Linked DNA regions of Homo sapiens: region 1 is linked to region 2. Evidence: fine-mapped expression QTL. A gene starts in region 2. The other region holds a variant in brackets. All regions are shown on one strand. Distances are from middle to middle.

Evidence for each region. PIP is the estimated chance that this variant, and not a neighbour inherited with it, causes the effect.
Region 1: its variant is fine-mapped to the expression of HCN2 in whole blood (TOPMed, PIP above 0.99). The same link has a PIP of 0.9 or more in blood mononuclear cells.

The regions. Positions count from the first base shown.
Region 1 is chr19:609,150-612,145 of GRCh38, forward strand. It overlaps HCN2 (hyperpolarization activated cyclic nucleotide gated potassium and sodium channel 2), which reads left to right. Exons shown (of 8, transcript NM_001194.4): 5 at 1,110-1,256. LOC107987266 (a long non-coding RNA gene) reads right to left here. Exons shown (of 2, transcript XR_001753828.2): 2 at 791-2,005. Among named protein-coding and RNA genes, the nearest start is that of HCN2, 21 kb to the left of the region's middle. RefSeq lists an enhancer at 1,761-2,070. The variant T/C (reference allele first, on the strand shown) is at 1,831.
Region 2 is chr19:588,851-591,582 of GRCh38, forward strand. It overlaps HCN2 (hyperpolarization activated cyclic nucleotide gated potassium and sodium channel 2), which reads left to right and starts at 1,031. Exons shown (of 8, transcript NM_001194.4): 1 at 1,031-1,727. The coding sequence starts at 1,096. It also overlaps the pseudogene LOC100420586.

The DNA.
Region 1 (2,996 bases), 20 kb after region 2:
AAACATAAGCTGGTGCCACCACCCGCCCGCCGTCACGGGTTCCGCTGAGCTCAGGGCAGCTGCGGCCGGGCGGGGCTGGGGCGGAAGTGAGGCTGGAGCTGCCGGGGGGCACCGTCCTGGGGACAGCAGGGCCTGGCACCCCCGCCCAGCACCCACGCTCCCTTCCCTGCTCAGGAGGGGCTGACCCGATGGTTTCTGGAAAGATCATCAGGGAAGGGCCAGAGCCCCCGGGAAGGGGGTCCTGTGTGTCAGGGTACCTGGGGCCTCTCCTCGTAGAGTCAGGTGCCCACCCATTCCTCAGGGATAGGGTTGCTAGATAAAGTTCAGGGCACCCGGCCTGGTGCAGTGGCTCCTGCCTGTAATCCCGGCACTCTGGGAGGCCGAGACAGGCCGATCGCCTGAGGTCAGGAGTTTAAGACCAGCCTGAGCAACACGGCGAGACCTCATCGCTACAAAAAATTAAAAAATTAGCAGGGCAGGGTGGTGCACACCTGTAATCCCCACTACTCAGGAGGCCGAGGTGGGAGGATCCCTTGAGCCCAGGAGTTCAAGACCAGCCTGTGCAATATGGCGAGACCTCATCTCCACAAAAAATAAAAGAATCAGCCAGGCGTGGTGGCGCACACCTGCAGTCCCTGCTACTCAGGAGGCTGAGGTGGGAGGATTGCTTGAGCCCATAGGCGGAGGCTGCAGTGAGCTGTGATTGCACCACTGCACTCCAGCGTGGGCCACAGAGCGAGACAGTGTCTCAGAAAAAAAAAATGGAATTTATCATTGAAACGAATTCAACTTTGATTTAAATAGAAGCATGTTTATTTGCTCTTGTTGAATCTGGCCGCCCCTGTGTGTGGCGGAGGCCTGTCTCCCCGCTGTGGGCGGGGGCTTTGTCTGACCCAGCCCTGACCCCCCACAGTACAAGCAGGTGTGAAGGCCTATCTCCCCGCCACAGGCCGGGGGGCTGTCTGACCCACAAGCAGGTGCCCGTGTGCCCGCTGCAGGCTGGGGGCGGTGTCTGACCCAGCCTCGCCTCCCCACAGTACAAGCAGGTGCCCCTGTGCCCGCTGCAGGCCGGGGGCGGTGTCTGACCCAGCCTCGCCTCCTCCCCACAGTACAAGCAGGTGGAGCAGTACATGTCCTTCCACAAGCTGCCAGCTGACTTCCGCCAGAAGATCCACGACTACTATGAGCACCGTTACCAGGGCAAGATGTTTGACGAGGACAGCATCCTGGGCGAGCTCAACGGGCCCCTGCGGGAGGTGAGGCGGGCGCCGGGCGGGCGGGAGGCAGCCTCCGGTACAGGGCCGGCCTCCCTCTCCTGGAGCCCAGGAGCCGGTCCCTGAGGGAGGCGAGGTGCCTAGGCTGCAGCAGGAGGGACTCGAGCTAGACCTGCGTACACACCCTCCCCTCCCCGCCCCGTGAGCCTCTGCACCCCCAGGACCCCCGCCACCCCCGCCTTGCTTCCCGCTGCCCCCTTAGCAGAACTGCCTGGGTCTGTGCCTGACAGGGCGGGGCAGAAGCAGGGCAGGGGGTGGGGAGGGAGGAGCCGCAGAGGCCCCGCTGAGCACCAGGTCCTGGGGGCACTGAGGCTGATTGGAGCGGGTTTAACTCCCAGCTCTGTTCCGGTAGCCTGAGTGACCCTGGGCAAGTTTCCCAGGGTTGCGGGAACAAATACCCACAGGCTGAGTGGCTTGAACAGCGGAGATTCGGCCTCCCACCGTCCTGGAGGCCGGAAGCCCAACATCAAGGCGTGGGCCGGGCCGTGCTACCCCCCCGGAGCCCCTGGGGAGGATCCTTCCTGCCTCTTCCGGCGTCTGGGGCTCCAGGCGCCCT[T/C]GGCTTGCAGATTGATCTCCCTGATCTCTGCCTCCATCTGCTCACAGCCTTCTCCCCTGTGTGTCTCTGTCTCTTCTTGTAAATTCATCCGTCGTTGGATCAGGGCCCACCCGGTTCCTCGTGGCCTCGCCTTAACTGGGCCATGTCTGCAGAGACCCTATTTCCACATAAGGTCCTATTCACAGGAACCGGGGGTCAGGATGTCAGCCTGTCTTTCTGGGAGATGTAGTTCAACCCACAACACACATCAAACAGTTATTGAGCGCCGACTGCGTGCCCTGCCGTGTGCTTGAAGGTCCCACCCTCAGGAAGCGGGGCCTAGGGATGGCGGCCGTGATCACGCAGGCAGCAGAGAGCAGCTCTGGGAAGCGGGGAGGGACGAGGACGGGGAGGCGACATCAGCAAGGCCGTGTGTGAGCCAGGCAGGGTGTCCCCGGTGTAGCACCTGGCTCGGGCAGAGGCCCCGAGGAGGGGCTGGAGGAGCTGGGCGAGGAGGCGGGCAGGACGGGCCTGACACTAGGGACCTCGGGCCCCGGGAATGCCTCTGGGGGGGCGTGTACACCCGTTGCTCCCAGGAGGCACACACTGCGGTTCGCTTCGCCAAGAATGTTTAATTGCATTTGATGACTACGGTTTCCATTCATTCATTTGTAGAGATATAACACTCAGACCACAAAATGCATAAAATGCGGTGGCTTTTAGTATTAACAGAGTGCTGCACCCGATACCACAGCCTCACTCCAGAACATTCTCATGGGCCCAAAAGGAGACCTGGGGTGTTAGTCACCAGCTCACTCCCCGTCCCCAGCCCCTGGCAACCCACGCTACTTAGTCATTATTTAGGTGTTTAGGAGTTGCAAAGTCAAATCTTTAAACCCACATATGGCCAGGCGTGGTGGCTCACGCCTGTAATCCCAGCACTTTCAGAGGCCGAGACGGGCAGATCACCTGAGGTCAGGAGTTCGAGACCAGCCTGGCCAACATGGTGAAGCCCCGTCTCCACTAAAAATACAAAATTAGCCGGGCGTGGTGGTGGGCGCCTGTAATCCCAGCTACTCTGGAGGCTGAGACAGGAGAATCGCTTGAACCCAGGAGGCGGCGGTTGCAGTGAGCCGAGATTGTGCCACTGCACTCCAGCCTGGACAACAGAGCGAGACTCCGTCTCA
Region 2 (2,732 bases):
TTCTTCGAGTGTGACTGTCTGTCTCCTCTCTCTCACTTGCCAGCTTCCTCACCTGCCCCCTCCCGGCTGTCTGGTGGGCTGGGTGGCTAGGGACAGAGGCCTCATGTCACCTGGCACCAAGCAGCACCCACGCCCAGCCGGCTTCGGCCCAGAAGCAGAGCCTTGGGAAGCACCTGTCTCAGAGCTGGGGACTGGAGGCACTGGGGGCACAGCTGCACCCGGAGTCCGAGGGGTCGGGGAAAGGAGGCAACCCCGGGGCAGGGGGCTCTGGTACCCGTGCGAAGGCGCTAGTGGGCTTTGGGTCTCCCTGTGACCCCAATCTAAAGCCCACCAGACCTAGAGGAGACCCCCGCCGCACGGCTCCCCAGGGCACTGTTTGAGGGGTGGGTGGGAACCCCACACCCTCGGGTGGCTTTTCCAGTTTTCCTTGTCTGGCTGGGCTTGGCCTCAGTTTCCTCAAATGCAGACCAGGGAGAGGAGTGCCTGAGTCTCCCAGAACGGCGCCCAAGCCGGCCTGCCCCTCCCCACGCACTCAAGGGTCTCTGTCCAGGGCCCACAGGCGACCCAGCAAGGGCTCCTGTGACCTTTAGAAACACCCTTTCGTCGTGGAAGTCTTCAAACCTCACAGAAAGCAAGGAGGCGCTGGCCGTGGCGGCCTCTCCCGTCTCCCAGGCCCGCGTCCACCCTCCCCGCGCCGGTGCCCTCCGGACAGAGGTGGAAGCCGCGGCGCAGGAGAGGCGGCTCCGGCCGGGCAGCGGGGCCCGGTGACCTTGGGCGCGTCCTTACACGTCGCGGGCCTCAGTTTCCCCTCCTGGGGAGAGGCCCGCGCGGGGCTCCGAGGCCTCGGGCCGCGTGACCTTGGGGCGCCCCCGACCCCGCGGCCCGAGTTTCCCGGCGCCGAGCGGAGGCGGCGCGCGGGGAGGGGGCGCAGCCGAGGCGGGTCTCCCGCCCCCGCCCCTCCCCCGCCCCTCCCCCGCCGCGAGGCTCCGCCCCCCGCGGCTCCGCCCCGCCCCGCCCCCGCCTCCCCCCTCCCTCGGGCTCCGGCCGGCGGCGGCGGCGGCGGCTCCGCTCCGCACTGCCCGGCGCCGCCTCGCCATGGACGCGCGCGGGGGCGGCGGGCGGCCCGGGGAGAGCCCGGGCGCGACCCCCGCGCCGGGGCCGCCGCCGCCGCCGCCGCCCGCGCCCCCCCAACAGCAGCCGCCGCCGCCGCCGCCGCCCGCGCCCCCCCCGGGCCCCGGGCCCGCGCCCCCCCAGCACCCGCCCCGGGCCGAGGCGTTGCCCCCGGAGGCGGCGGATGAGGGCGGCCCGCGGGGCCGGCTCCGCAGCCGCGACAGCTCGTGCGGCCGCCCCGGCACCCCGGGCGCGGCGAGCACGGCCAAGGGCAGCCCGAACGGCGAGTGCGGGCGCGGCGAGCCGCAGTGCAGCCCCGCGGGGCCCGAGGGCCCGGCGCGGGGGCCCAAGGTGTCGTTCTCGTGCCGCGGGGCGGCCTCGGGGCCCGCGCCGGGGCCGGGGCCGGCGGAGGAGGCGGGCAGCGAGGAGGCGGGCCCGGCGGGGGAGCCGCGCGGCAGCCAGGCCAGCTTCATGCAGCGCCAGTTCGGCGCGCTCCTGCAGCCGGGCGTCAACAAGTTCTCGCTGCGGATGTTCGGCAGCCAGAAGGCCGTGGAGCGCGAGCAGGAGCGCGTCAAGTCGGCGGGGGCCTGGATCATCCACCCGTACAGCGACTTCAGGTACCGCCTCCGGGAGGGCCGGTCGGCGCGAGGGGGCCCGGGGAGCCGGGCGCGCGGGGAGCCGTCCTTGGAGCGCCTGGGGAGGGCGGGGCGGCGCGCCGGGCCGGTGACCTCGGGGCTCCTCGGTGACCTCGGGCGTGTCCGGGACCCGCCCCGGAGTGACCCCGGCGCGCGAGGCTCCGCCTCTGGGGGGGCTCCCCGGGTGACCGCGGAGCGCCCCCCTCCCACGCACCCCGACATCCTCCGCCCTGCGGCGCGGCGGGTGGGGTGGGCCGCAGGGCCAGGGTCTGAGCGCAGAGGGGCAGAGAGGACGAATAGAGGGGAACGTGGGCCCCAGAGAGGCGGCGGAGCGGGAGGGAGGAGGAACGAAGGGCGCCCGGGAAGGACGCGCCCCAGGGAGGCCGGGGGAGAGGGGGTTAAGCGGCTCCCACGGCGTCCACCCGCGCCCCGCCTGCGAGGAGGCGCGCCCGGGGCCGCGGGCCTGGAAAGCGTGCGGGTCCCCAGGCTGTGTCCCCGGGAGCCGCTCCACCCGAGCCGCGGGCGGTGCGCGCATGCGGCGGTGGGTGTGTAGACGCCGCTGTGGATCCAGCCGGCTAATGCGTGGAAGGCTCGGAGCAGGGCCGGCGCGGGGCCACCGCCACTGATGTTTGCGGTCGTGGTTCCTGGGCTGTGCGTGCTGTGGCCGGAGAGCGAGACCGGCGCGTGTCCCCGTGGGCTGTGTGTGAACAGGGGCCCGTGACCGCGGCGGGGTTCCCGGGGCGCGAGCCTGTGGCCGGAGAGGTGTGTCTCCAGGAGTGTGTTTGCGTGGTGGTCGCGGGCGTGTGCGCCTCCGGTGGGTTTATTTTGGTGGGACGTGTGGTTTGTGTGTGTTGGGACCAGGTGGCGGGCGTGCGCGTGTACGCCCGGGGCCGGTGTGCACCGGTGGGCAGTAGTGTGAGCCGCAGGCAGGTCTCACACACGCGACCATGGAGGGATGCGTGTGTGTTTGTGTATCCACGAGTGGGG